Linked DNA regions of Homo sapiens. The protein of the gene in region 1 purifies or fractionates together with the protein of each later gene. This does not show direct contact. Each region holds a gene or a part of one and is shown in the gene's direction. Other genes may lie near its edges.

Region 1 (4,045 bases):
AAACTGTCTTATAACATGGTGACATTTATGCACGGATTTTTTTTTTTTTTTTGAGACAGGGTCTCACTCTGTTGCCCAGACTGGAGTGCAGTGGTGCATCTTGGCCCACCACAACCTCCATCTCCCAGGCTCAAGTGATTCTCCTGCCTCAGCCTCCCAAATAGCTGGGATTACAAGCGCCTGCGCCACCTCACCCAGCTAATTTTTGTATTTTTAGTAGAGATGGGGTTTCACTAGGTTGGCCATGCTAGTCTCGAACTCCTGACCTCAAATGATCCACCCGCCTCGGCCTCCCAAACTGCTGGGATTACAGGCGTAAGCCACCGTGCCTGGCCCCTGCACAGACCTTTTTTAAAGCTCATCATCTATCCTTAGTGTTAGTATATTTTATGTGTGGCCCAAGACAGTTCGTCTTCTTCCAATGTGACCCAGGGAAGCCAAAAGATTGGACACCCCTGATTGAGAACAATGCCTGGAACTTTGTAGCTCTCAAAAGTTTGTTCAATGAATGAATGAGTGAATGCTTCCAATACAAAACCTTAGAACAGGCAAGTCAAAATGTCACCAAAAGGTGGGAAGAAGAGGCATTCACGGTACTGGTTGAGTGCATAGTAAATAAGGTACTTGCACAACTATGGGCAACAAAGAGACGGCTTGGGAATTATCAAACACCAATTTTGATTTTGATGAGAACAGTCATAACCCAATATTTGAAGATTTTGATGGTTGCTTCTTCTTTGCCCCTCTAACCACCCCCCCCACCCCAGAACGATGAAGGGTTAACCAAAACACCACCAAAGGCAACTACTTATTACCTTTGTTATTCCCACATAAAAAATTGAGCAGACCTATTGTTTAAGCAGAAGAGGCAGTCCCTCAATGAAGCAATATCCTGTTTGAATAATTTAGGATGGGGCATAGGCCAGCCCACACAGCGCATTTGTGTGACAGGGCGTCCCACTCAGACGTCTCCATTTCCGGTATCTAGAGCCGGCTGCCCTCTAAAAATCCCCCTGTTACAGTCGGGATAGAAAACAAAAAGCTTAATTTACCAGGAGGCTAAACAGATTGTGCCTTCTTAGGCAAATGTTCCACCTGCTTGGCCAATTAGCTTCCTCTCCCGAAAGACTCGTTCAACAGGTTTCCTTTTTCTCTTCTCTGCCTCCTGGGTTGGGGAAAGAGGCTGTCACTTCGCTTCGACCCTCCCCTTCCCTCCCTCTCGGCTTTTCCACAGTGGGTCGGACCAATCGCGCCCGCTCCGACGTGTCCAGGTCCGCGGCCCCGGGAGCTTGGCGCGGCCCGGCCTGGATGCGCTGGGCGGAGGGTGCAGGGGAGGGCACGGCGCCGCTTGCTTGGCCTGCGCACCCGGACCTAGAAGCCGGGACGAGCCGGGGCAGAGCCAGGCGCGCGGAAGTCTGAAGGTGCCCTCCAGACACGGCCCCGATGACTGAACTACAGCAAGATGTGGAAGACACAAAGCCTGCGAAAGTGCTCGGGAAGAGGGAGAGCAAACTTGGCTCAGCCCAGTGAGTATTCTCAGCTGGGACCCATCCAAGGAGGTGGGAGGAGCGCAGCCTAAACTTCTCTGCCCCGGGACGCATTTTGGGTGGATGCGGATTTCTGGAGCTCCTATATGGACAATCTTGTGGCGCGCTCTCTCTGTCTCTCACTCTCTCTCTCTGTCTAGATATTCAGTTAAGGAGATGGTTTAGATTGATTGAAAAGTCTACTGTAGGATTTAAACAAATTCTCTTAATTCAAAACTCACTGGATGTTGGGAAAATAATTTTGTAGAAAATAAGCCTAACCACATTGAAGCTCAAAGTCCCAACACAGCCCTTCGTTTAGAATGACCATTTTCACAAATTCATTTTAGTTCAGCAAATAATTGAGTATCTACTTGTTCAATAACGATGGGCAATACAAGGATAAATGTTATTTTGGATCTGCCCTTCTGGAACTTCAAGAGCAGAGTGGGGATGGGGGAGGCACAAATGAATATTACTGTACTTCAAGGGACTTTGGTGACCATTGCCACATTAAACACACAGACAAGGTATGATAAAGAGTTTAGCCTATAATTGAGTCTTCTCTACTTTTAAAATATTTATCTATTTTGCAGTCTTTGGTAAAATTGGTTTGGGAGGAGAGGTTGTTTTTTTCCTACAAAGTGGTATTTTCTAAGCCTACTGAAGTCACTTCTAATTCAGTCTATGATTTTAGACACTAACCCTTCTGAGCTCTAAAACTCTTGTTCTGGTATCAGGATATGAGTAATTTAGGAAGGAGGGATATGTATTATCATAAGGTTATACTGATGTGATAATTCCACTTTGAAATCATTTTAAGTTGCCAAATTTTTGTGCTTAGAAACCCGGTCTAACTTCTGTTTTGAACTTCATAACTTACATTAATTATCACTAGGCTCAAAGTCTTGTTGAAGTCTGGGTGTCCCCATGGACATTTCTTCTAAGAGGATTAGAATGACTTGCTCCTCACAATTTCCCTGCGTCTGTAACTGCACCCATGTAGACCTCATCACCTAGAGCCTTAGCCTCCTAAATAATAGTAGCTGGCACTTACTGAGAATGCTTACTATGTGACAGGGAGTGTGCTCAATACTTTAAATGCATTCTCACAAAGAATGAGGCAGGTGCTATTATTTCCATGTTGCAGATAAAAGCACTGAAGCTCTGAGAAGCTAAGCAGCTAGGCAGAGTCACAAAGTTAATAAAAGAGCAGCCAGGATTCAAGCCCAGGTCTCCTAACTTTACAGCATGAACTTAGAACCACTATGCTGTACACTGGTTCCTCTGTTCCAGAATCTATGATGGCCTTCCATGGCCTACTCTTAAAAATAGGCTTCTCTGCCAAGATTTTAAGATCCTTCATGATCTGGACCCACACAGACCATTGCAACCTCACTTCCTAATACTAGTCAGCATGCACATCTTTTATAGCCAAACAATCATACTAGCAGCCCTATACTTAAAGGAGTGATATGCAGCACTCCCATGTTCATTGCACATTACTCACAATAGCCAAGATATGAAATCAACCTAAGTGTCCATCAACAGATGAATGGATAAGAAAATGTGCTATATACACAAGATACGAAATCAATCTAAGTGTCTATCAATGGATAAAGGGATAAGAAAATGTGGTATATATACACAATATTATTCAGCCTTTAAAAAGAAAGATCATTTGTGACATGGATGAACCTAGAGGACGTATGTTAGACAAAATAAGCCAGGAATAGAAAAACAAACACTGCATGTTCTCACTTAAGTGTGACATCTGAAAAAGTTGACTCAGGCCAGGCAGGGACTGTGGCTCATGCCCATAATCCCAACACTTTGGGAGGCCGAGGCTGGAGGATCACTTGAGCCCAGGAATTTAAAACCAGCCTGGGCAACAAAGTGAGACCCTGTCTCTACAGACAAAAAAAAATAAGTTAAGCATGATGGCGCACACCTGTGGTCCCAGCTGCTCGGGAGGCTGAGGTGGGAGAATCTCTTGAGCCCAGGCAGTTGAGGCTACAGTGAGCCATGTTCATGCCACTACATTCCAGCCTGGACACAGAGTGAGACCCTGTCTCAAAACTAAAATTTAATTTAATTTAAAAATAAATTTAGAAGTTGGATTCATAGAAATAGAGAGTAGAATGGTGGTTTCCAGGCGCTGGAAGGTAGAAAGGGTGGGGAAGGAGGGAATAGGGAGTTGATCAGAGGGTACGAAGTTTCAGTTAGGAGGAATAAGTTTTGAGTTCTATTGCACAGCAAGGAGATTAGTGAATAATAATATGTTGTATATTTCAATATAACTAAGAGTAAATTTCAAATGTCTCACCATAAAAAATGATAGGTAAGCAAGACCATAGGTATGTTGCTTGATTTAATCATGCCACATTGTATACATATACCAAAACATTACCCTGTACCCCATAAATGTAAACAATTATGATTTGTCAATTAAAAATAATATTAATTTTAAAATAATTTAAAAATATATTTCTTATAAAATTCAAAAAAAGAAGTGATAT
Region 2 (3,500 bases), 8.5 Mb from region 1:
CCCAAAAAGCTGGGATTACAAGCATGCGCCACCACGCCAGGCTAATTTTGTATTTTTAGTAGAGATGGGGTTTCTCCATGTTGGTCAGGCTGGTCTCGAACTCCCGACCTCAGGTGATCTACCCGCCTCAGCCTCCCAAAGTGCTGAGATTACAGGTGTGAGCCACCGAGCCCGGCCAATTTGATTGTTTTTATTTTTATTTAGTTATTTTTTTGAGACAGGGTCTCACTCTTTCGCCCAGGCTGGAGTGCAATGGCTTGATCTTGGCTCACTGCAACCTCTGCCTCCCAGGTCGATTTGATATTTTTAATATCTTATATCTTGATATCTACTTTACTTTTTGAATGCAATACAGTTACAATTATTGTTTTAATATCCTTGTCTGCTAATTGTGACATGGGTGCAAGTTCTGGGTCAGTGTGGCTTGATTGATTATTCTCATTATGTGTCCTATTTTCCTGCTTCCTTATATGTCTGATAATTTTTTACTGGATGCCAGACATGAATTTTACTTTGTTGAATGCTGGATATTTTAGATTCCCTATACATATTCTTTTTTTTTTTTTTTCTGAGACGGATTTCTCTCTTGTTGCCCAGGCTGGAGTGCAGTGGCATGATCTCGGCTCATTGCAACCTCCACCTCCTGGGTTCAAGTGATTCTCCTGCCTCAGCCTACCGAGTAGCTAAAATTACAGGTGCCCGCCACCATGCATGGCTAATTTTTATATTTTAATAGAGACAGGGTTTCACCATGTTGGTCAGGCTGGTCTCAAACTTCTGACCTCAGGTGATCCACCCACCTCGGCCTTCCAAATTGCTGGGATTACAGGCGTGAGCCACTGCACCTGGCCCCGTATATATATTCTTGAGCTTTGTTCTGGGGTACAGTGAAGTTACTTGAGAACAGCTTGATTCTTTCAGGTTTTGCTTTTAAGCAAGCAAGCTGTTATTTTCTTTAGGGTTAATAGTGTCCCACTACTGACGCAGGTCCTTTTGTATACTCTACTCAATACCCTGTGAATTATGAAGTTTTTCAGTCTAGCTGGTAAGAAGAGGTACCATTCCCTGCTCTGTGTGAATGTTGGGTACTGTTCCTTCCCATCCTTTCTGGTAGTTCTTTCTCTGGCACTGGGTAGTTTACTCACATGCATGTGATGACCCGTACCCTGCTGTATACTTGGGGGGGCCTCTGCAGATCTCTGGAGTCCCCTCTCTAGATAGCTCCTCTCATCTGCAGTATTCTGTCTTGCAAACTATGGCTTCTTGGTCTCCTTGGACTCTTAGCTCCATCTCCTCAACTGGGAGAGTCTGCTGGGCTCTGCCTGGATTTCCCCTCCCTGAGCCACAGTGGGAACGCCATCAAGGCAGTAAGTTGGAGCAGTTGTAGGGTTCTCTTCATTTGTCGCCTGTTTCTCGGATGTCACTATCCTCTGTTGCCTCATAACTGATTTCCTGAAACTGTTGTTTTATATATATTATCTATTTGGTTGTTTCAGTAGGTAAGGTAAATCTGGTTCTTGTTACTCCATCTTGGCCAGAAGCAGAATTCCCAGATAATGTTTTTGAATCTCTGAATGAATCCACAGAGCTCTATGCCCTAGTGTGAGGTAGATCAGTAGGGTAACTGTAGTTCATAATAGCCTATTGTATATTTTAAAATAGCTAGAAGAGAAGAATTTGAATGATTCTAGCATGAAGAAAAGACAAATATTTAAGGTGATGGATATCCCAAATACATTGATCTGATCTTTACAAATTGCATGAATATATTGATTATCACATGTGCTTTGTGATTATCACATGTACATCTGTTATGCATCAGCAACAACAAAAAGCTCTACAGGGATATTCTTTGAAATCTTATACAAATGTGCATACCTGAGGAAGCCCCCAGACCTTCCCAACTTTGAAGTCAGTTGGTCACTGACACTCCAGTGACATGCTGTTGGCACGCAGAACTCATCACCCAGCGGGTGGTTTCTTAACCACATGGTGAGCTTTCGTGAGGGCTGCTGGCCTCACTGGTTTCTGCTGGTTGGTGCCTGGCACAAAGTCTGGCAGCTGGTGTTGAGTTGATGAGTTGGAGGGCAGGAGGCATTGCTATGGAGGTGAGTGGAGTTGGGTAAATAGATGTACGAGACTACCTGGGACTCTTCCCTTATCTGAGCATTATGCTCAAGACCCACCTTCTAGCTCCAAAGTGGGGGAAAGTTCTCTTCTTCCTCCTGCTGCTGCCTCTGCACTGCCGAGCCCATCTCCCAGCACTCCCAAGGGCAGCAGCCCAAGGGTGGCAGGCAGGAGAGCAGAGTCCAGCTGTCAGAGGCCACCTCAGGAAGGAGCTGCTGTGTGGCTTGAACAGTGTTCTTCAGGCAGTGTGGCTCAGCATCCCCGAGGTATCATGGCAGGGAGCCTACGGCTCGTTCTGGAGTAGCAGCCAGAAAACTTTGCTCGCAGACTTGGCTTTGCTGCTTACTATCTGTGTACCATCGGACACTGTGCTGAGCCTCTCTGTGCCTTGCCTCGTTACCTGTTCAGTGGTCTTGGTAACCCTTGTCTTGCCCATCTCACAGGACTGTTATAATGTGTGCAAAGATGCTTTGTTCTAGTAGAATCTTGCATAAAACCATGATCCTTTTCTTGGATATTATCAAACAAATGAAACTCTTATCAAAAAATGAAAGTGTTTATATTCTATTTTCCTAATGAGATATCTGAACTGGAATGTTTTTGGTTATAATCCACATGGCAAGCAGCAAGTTTAGGGCAGAGCTGTGTGTTTGTCTATTATTTGACATTCATTATTTTGTTTGCTTGTTTGTTTGTTTGTTTTTTGAGACGGAGTCTTGCTCTGTCGCCCAGACTGGAGTGCAGTGGCGCAGTCTTGGCTCACTGCAACCTCCGCCTCCTAGGTTCCAGCAATCCTCTTGCCTCAGCCTCCCTAGTAGCTGGGATTACAGGTGCCTGCCACCATGCCCGGCTAATTTTTATATTTTTAATAGAGACAGGGTTTCACCATGTTGGCCAGGCTAGTCTTGAACTCCTGACCTCAAGTGATCCACCTGACTTGGGGCCTCCCAAGGTGCTAGAATTACAGGTGTGAACCACCATGCCCGGCCTTCTTTGACATTCATTAATTTATTAATAGTACCTGCTTGTGACCTTCTTCCTAACCTGGGAAATGGTGAGTAGCTCTCTGATAGTTTAATGAAAGGAGACCTTTTTGTCTCCAGAGGGGAAAATTTCGTGTTAGAGGGGAACTGTAATTCTTTGGGGTTCATTTGTTTTGAAGTCAAATATGACTCTGAATGTGCTGGCATGTTTTAGTTGCAGAGGAAAGTGGTCGCTTATGGTCAGAGGAGCAGCCTGCTCACCCTCTCCAGGTGGGGGCTGTGTACCTGGGTGAGGAGGAGCTCCTGCATGACCCGATGGGCCAGGACAGGGCAGCAGAAGAGGCCAATGCGGTGCTGGGGCTGGACACCCAAGGCGATCACATGGTGATG
Region 3 (3,228 bases), on another chromosome or scaffold:
TGGTAGCGCACACCCTGTAATCCCAGCTACTCGGGAGAATAGCCTGAGCCTAAAAGTTTGAGGCTACAGTGAGCTGTGATCATGCCACTGCACTCTAACCTGGGTGACAGAGGGAGACCCTGTCTCAAAAAAAAAAAAAAAGTTATGTATATAACTGACCTTCCTAAGTGTTTGTGATGAGGCCCTTGAGAAAATGCCAGAAGAAACTATTGATAGACATTCTCTAATCATTTTGGCTCAATATTGCCATTGAAATAAAAAAGATACAGATCAACTGGTAATATTGCTCTTTTTCTTTTTACTGATTTTTAAAAAGTAGAGAGCATGCACTTTGGAGAGATAATTCCTCTGGTTCTTTTTTATTGAAATACAATTCACATACCATAACATTCACCTTTTTAAAATGCAGTGTTTTTAATCCAGTGTTTTTTAGTGTATTCACAAGGTCATGCAACCATCACCACTATCTAATTCCAGAACATTTTCATCACCCCTCACAGAATCTCTGTACCCATTAAACAGTCACTCCCAGTCCCCTCTCCTGCCAGTCTCCAGCAACCACTAGTCTCTTAATCACTATCTCTATGGATTTGCCTATTTGGGGTGTTTCACATAAATGGAATCATACAGTATGTGGCCTTGTGTGTGCTTTTTCTTTCAATATGATTCTTTCACTTAGCATAATGTTTTTATGGTCTATTCATGTTGGAGCATGTATCAGTACTTCGTTCCTTTTTATGGCTGAATAATATTCCATTCTGTTGACCTAACACATTTTGGTCTGTTCATCCGTTGATGGACATTTCGATTGTTCTCACTTTTGGGCTATTAAGAGTAATGCTGCCATGAACATTCATGTGCAAGTTTTTATGTAAACATATGTTTTCATTTGCCTTGAGTATATATATACCTAGGAATGGAATTAATGGGTCATATGATAGCCCTAACTTTTTGAGGAACTCCTACACTTTTCCAGAGTGGCTGTACCATGTTACATTCCCATCAGCAATGTGTGAGGGTTCAATCCACTTTCTCCACATCCTCCCTAATGCTTGGTAAGGCCTGTCTTTTTTTATTATAGCCATCGTAGTGATTATGACATGGTATCTCATTACACTTTTGAGTCACTGGTTCTTGAGCTGCTTAATTTCTGGATCCAGAGAGACAAGTGTCACATAGTAGAAAGAGCACTGGACTAGGTAATAAGAAATTTGTATTCTAGGCCAGGTGTGGTGTCCTAGCACTTTGGGGAGGCTGAGGTGGGCAGATCATTTGAGGCTAGGAGTTAGAGACCTGGCCGACATGATGAAACCGCATCTCTACTAAAAATACAAAAATTAGCCAGGCCTGGTGATACACACCTGTCATGCCAGCTACTAAGGAGGCTGAGGCAGGAGAATAGCTTGAACCTAGGAGGCAGAGGTTGCAGTGAGCCAAGATCATACCACTGCACTCCAGCCTGGGTGACAGAGTAAGACTCCACCAAAAAAAAAAAAAAAAAAAAAAAAAAAAAAACAGGCGTGGTGGTTCACGCCTATAATCCCAGCACTCTGGGAGGCCCAGGTGGGCGAATCACCTGAGGTCAGGAGTTCAAGACCAGCCTGGCCAACATGGTGAAACCCCATCTCTACTAAACATTAAAAAAAATTAGCTGGGCGTGGTGGCGGGCGCCTGTAATCCCAGCTACGCAGGAGGCTGAAGCACAAGAATCACTTGAACCCAGGAGGCAGAGGTTGCAGTGAACCAAGATCGCGCCACTGCACTCCAGCGTGGGCGACAGAGTGAGACTTAGCTTCAAAAAAAAGAAAAGAAATTTGTATTGTATTCCACTTAAGAGTTACATGACCGTAGGCAAGTTACTTTCCTCTTTGAGCTTTGGATTTCCTGTCAAAACTGAGAAAGCTATGAGTGTTTGGGATTGTTTTATGGGCTTCCAAGTCATTCCTCCAGTCTCCACTCAGCCATCCAACAAGAAATCTCACAATATGCCACAGTCTGTTTTATGAGCTAGCTCCTATCACATAACTCATTAGGCCTCTGCATTCCTTTTCACCCCTTCAACATAAGAATAAATTCAGGAAAATCTAAAGGGAAGACGCTGGACAGAGAGAAGATGAGACCATTCATTCTCCTGCGATTATCTGTCACTGCTTCTACTTTGGCAGTGTCTCACTGTGTTGCCCAGGCTGGTCTCAAATTCCTGGCCTCAAGCAATCCTCCTGCCTCAGCCTCCCAGAGTGTTGGGATTATAGGCATAAGCCACTGCACCCAGCCTTTTTTTTTTTTTTTTTTTTAATATATTTTTAAGGGATCAAAAATTAGTCTTCCTGATTTAGTGAAATCCTAAACTTTACCATTTGGAAACAAAATTTGCGGAGTAGCTTTTCTTTTAGTGTTTTAAATTCAGTTGAGACTACTTTTAACTAAATTTAGCTGTATGTTTAGACGTATACATTTTTTGTAATTCATTTTTGACAGATCTTCAGGATTTATTCCGCAAGACTGGCCAGGACGTGGATGGGAAGCTGACCTACCAGGAAATCTGGACCTCCCTAGGTTCTGCTATGCCAGAACCAGAGAGCTTGAGAGCATTTGATTCCGATGGAGATGGAAGATACTCATTCCTGGAGCTAAGGGTAGCTTTAGGTATCTAGCTTCATCAGGCATATTTTAGAAATGGACTGCCTAATATCTATTTACCTAACAACAAAACAACCCTTACTTACCCATCAGTCCTCTAGTCCTCCAAACTACTGTAGCAGATACTTTGCCACCTTTTAACTTGTTTGAAGAAGCTATATAAAAGTTATTTTTTTAAAGAAGAAGACCATTTTACTTATGATGTTCAGAAATCTATGATTTCCTACAACCAGTAAGATCTTACATTTTAAAATTGCCAGAAAAAAAATTAAAGCCCTCTTTTTTTCTCTTTCCTTTTTTTGAGGGGAGGAGACCTTATCTTTTAAAGCTGGGAAATGTATATAGAGAGAGAATAAGCCACTTTTATATTTCACTTAAATTTGCCTTAAATTAGCTGCACTTTATAGAGACTCAGAAAATGTCTTTTCTTTAAAAGATAGGCCTTTTCTGTTTGTAAATATTTAAATGAAAGAAAGCATTGTGCATATTGTGTGGAAAGTAGGAAGAATGGTTTTGAACAGGATATGAACAAATGACTTATTAAAAATTGCTGATCTGGTGTAGGTGGCAGCTGAAACTACATCCATG
Region 4 (3,500 bases), on another chromosome or scaffold:
GAAAGGTGGGGACAGAGAATAGTTTGCTAAATAGGTAAGCACATATGAGATATATAAGGAAATGTTGGCTATGTCACTTAGGGTAGACTTAAAGTCTGGTTTTAGTAAGCCTGTTTATTAAGGATCTGGAGAAGTACCTAGTGAAATCTCTGAGTTTATAGATGACAGTAAAGTAAATTATATGGTAGGTGTTTTGAAGGATACAATAACATGATTTTTCCTCAGGAATTCCCTAACATAGTGCTTAGCATGTGGTTGGCACTCCATAAATATTGAATACATTAATGGAAGGAGCATATAGCCTACCGTGGAATGCAAATAATTGTAATACAAGGTCGATAATGGTAAGAGTCATAACAGAGTAACAGATAATGTGATAAAGAAATTAAGAGTACAGAGAGACTATTTTTGACTGATGAGGATTCATTTAGAAGAGTGGACATTTTTATTAACCTCTACAAGTAAAAGTGCATTATGTCCAGTGGAAATTGAGGCTGTTAGCAATAAAAACAATTAAGGAGAATACATTAAAATTCTATAGCAAACATTATGCTGAGTGAAAAAAGCCAGTCACAAAAGGCCATATATTGTATGATTCCATGTATGTGAAATGGAGTCTAGAACTGGTAAGTTTATAGAGACAGAAAGTAAATGGTAGTTGCCAGGAGCTGATAGGAAGGGAGAATGGGGAGTGACTGCAAGTGACTGCAAAGCATTTCTTTGTTGGGGTGATGACAATGTTCTACAATTAGTTAGTGGTGATGGTTGCCCAACTCTGTAACCCACTAAATTGTACACTTTACATGAAGTGAATTTTGTGGTGTGTGGATTATATCTTAAAAGCTGTTATTTAGAAATTCTATAGCAAATCTTAAAATGGAAATATTTTGAAAGTCTCAAAGTATGTGCAGAAATTTTACTCATCTAGGTAATCTACTTATGCTGATCCAATTTATATCTTTTCAGCTTAGCATCAGTATTTTATAGGCTTTTTTACATGGTTGCACATGTATATTTTATTAGCTTTCTGTAAAGTTAAAAATTTCCATTGTATTGTTCTCCTTGAGAAGTTTAGTAGCCTCTTGCCGGCTCTGGATTTGGATAGAAAAGCAGTTACTCTAATGCAAAGAGCCTTGGATTATGGTAAACAGGATCTGGATCTTAGTTAGGGTCACCAAACAGCCGAGCAACCTCAGGCAAATCTTTTCATTTTTTTGATTCTCAGTTTTCTCGTCTATGAAATGAGGCAGCTGAACTAGATTATCTTTAAGGTCCTTGCCAACTTGAAAAGTTTCTAGTCTTTGAGGAAAGAAAGAATATTTTTGACTAGCTGCTGTTTTCTTCTGGCGATTGAATGCTTTCTTTTTTTTCTTTTTTGAGACTGAGTCTCACTCTGTCACCCAGGCTGGAGCACAGTGGTGCGATCTTGGCTCACTGCAACCTCCGCCTCCTGGGTTCAAGCGATTCTCCTGCCTCAGCCTCCCAAGTAGCTGGGATTGCGGTGCCCACCACCACGCCTGGCTACTTTTTGTATTTTCAGTAGAGATTTTGCCATGTTGATGAGGCTGGTCTTGAACTCCTGACCTTAAGTGATCCACCCTGCCTCGGCCTCCCAAAGTGCTGGGATTACAGGTGTCAGCCACTGCACCTGGCCTGAATGCTTTCTTTTTTTCTTTTCTTTCTTTCTTTTTTTTTTGGAGATGGAGTCTCACTCTGTCACCAGGCTGGAGTGCAGTGGCGTGATCTTGGCTCACTGCAACCTCTGCCTCCGGGTTCAAGCGAGTCTTCTGCCTCAGCCTCCCAAGTAGCTGAGACTTCAGGTGCGTGCCACCACGCCCAGCTAATTTTTGCATTTTTTTTTTTTTTTAGTAGAGACGGCATTTCACCATGTTGGCCAGGATGGTCTCGATCTCTTGACCTCATGATCAGCTCACCTCAGCCTCCCAAAGTGTTGGGATTACAGGCATGAGCCATCATGCCCGGTCGGCCTGAATGCTTTCTAAGAAAGTGTGTGGCAGGATCCTCATTCTCTCTTCTACTTCTTTTCCTGTTCTTCAGTCTCTGAAAGAAGCATATCTGTTTCAAACCTTTATTTCCTCGGTTCTTCCATCTTCTTCCTCTTTATTTGCAATCTCTCCTTCCTTCTTCCTCCTCCTTTCCTCTCTGTTTTTCCACATCTCACCTCCATCCTGTTGAGCATTGGAAATTAGATCAGTTGTGCTCCCATTGTATTTAATAGGTTTTCCTTTCTTTTTGCTCCTTGAGAAAGGGAAAGCAGATCCCAGGACATTTATTATAGTCTTGGCCATATGATCATTTGACAGCTGTTTCTTAAACCTTGTTCTTAGGGCTGGGAAGAGTGAGGAGGCAGGAGTGGCCAATGGGCTTAGGCTCAGACATCTTGAGCGTCCACTTCTGGGAGGGCTTCGCCATTTCAGCTGAGACTGAGTCAGAAGGAAGGAGATATAAAACTGCCTTCTTGTGCGATCTAGTATCTAACTCAAACATCTACTCTGTACCTGTCCAAGCTTTGTGGTTGTACACAAATGAAATTTAAAGGAGCAATTTTCATTTGATTAGTTACTGTTACGGCCATTTGTACTTTGTTAATTTTTTAATGTTTTTGAGATTTATAGAATCCCATGTGAGTGTATCTTGTTTTCAGAAATGATATCAACTTGCATGTAATTTAAGAAGATAGCCTTGTTATAAGTAAACATTTATTTGCTATATTACAGTAGTCCATTTATTATCAAACTGTTTTATCATAGGAAATGACCTCAGTGAGGAGACCAAATCATTTATTTGTGTGGAGGTGACCTTATATTTCTATAATGATGTGTTTCTTACAGAAGTCCAGGAAGAAGCAGCTTGGATGACTCTGGGGAGAGAGATGAAAAATTATCCAAGTCAATCAGTTTTACCAGTGAATCAATTAGTCGGGTTTCAGAAACAGAGTCATTCGATGGAAATTCATCAAAAGGAGTTAGTATATGATATCCCTTTTAAAATATATCTGGTACTGTCATGTCCTAATCAGAATACAAGATAAATAAGGATACAGTATACAAAATGTTAAAAATAAGATATCAGACTCCTACCTTATTTTAGGAAAAAAGTTTAAAGTCTGTTAGTAGCAGAGATTATGTGGGAAAATATGTGGTTTTGTTCAGAGCTATATAAAAAGCAGAGCTACCGAGCAGTTTTACCTGGGCATCAGTCTGTAGGGGGATAAATATCATTAAAAGAATAATAAGATGGAGAAATTTGTAAGTAGCAGAATTTTCCCCAGGGTAAGTACTGTGTGTGCTGGAAAGAATCTGTTTTTTTTTTTTTCTTTCTTTCTTTCACAGAAGGGAACAGCATGGAGAAAGAATCTGTTTTGAAGGGAGAGATGAGCCCCTGAGCAGCATGCTTGAGTAACAATAGCTGCTTTTTAAGCTTTTTAAGCAGGCAGGTCCAGTTAACTACTAGGCATTATACTCAATTACTTAGTTTCT

What was found. Proteins that work in one complex are often made in the same cells at the same time.
Region 2: the proteins of GRAMD2B (region 1) and TXNDC15 purify together in Homo sapiens (affinity purification with mass spectrometry; 3 studies listed by BioGRID and IntAct, with this or other methods). This does not show direct contact.
Region 3: the proteins of GRAMD2B (region 1) and EFCAB14 purify together in Homo sapiens (affinity purification with mass spectrometry; 3 studies listed by BioGRID and IntAct, with this or other methods). This does not show direct contact.
Region 4: the proteins of GRAMD2B (region 1) and GRAMD1C purify together in Homo sapiens (affinity purification with mass spectrometry; 3 studies listed by BioGRID and IntAct, with this or other methods). This does not show direct contact.

The regions. Positions count from the first base shown.
Region 1 is NC_000005.10:126,422,164-126,426,208, forward strand, and holds the start of GRAMD2B (GRAM domain-containing protein 2B), read left to right. Parts: upstream 1-1,245; 5' UTR 1,246-1,443; coding exon 1,444-1,526; intron 1,527-4,045.
Region 2 is NC_000005.10:134,884,371-134,887,870, forward strand, and holds part of TXNDC15 (thioredoxin domain-containing protein 15 isoform 1 precursor), read left to right. Parts: intron 1-3,324; coding exon 3,325-3,500. UniProt on the Homo sapiens protein: Acts as a positive regulator of ciliary hedgehog signaling. Involved in ciliogenesis.
Region 3 is NC_000001.11:46,677,887-46,681,114, reverse strand, and holds part of EFCAB14 (EF-hand calcium-binding domain-containing protein 14), read left to right. Parts: intron 1-2,478; coding exon 2,479-2,654; 3' UTR 2,655-3,228.
Region 4 is NC_000003.12:113,901,288-113,904,787, forward strand, and holds part of GRAMD1C (protein Aster-C), read left to right. Parts: intron 1-2,852; coding exon 2,853-2,985; intron 2,986-3,500. UniProt on the Homo sapiens protein: Cholesterol transporter that mediates non-vesicular transport of cholesterol from the plasma membrane (PM) to the endoplasmic reticulum (ER).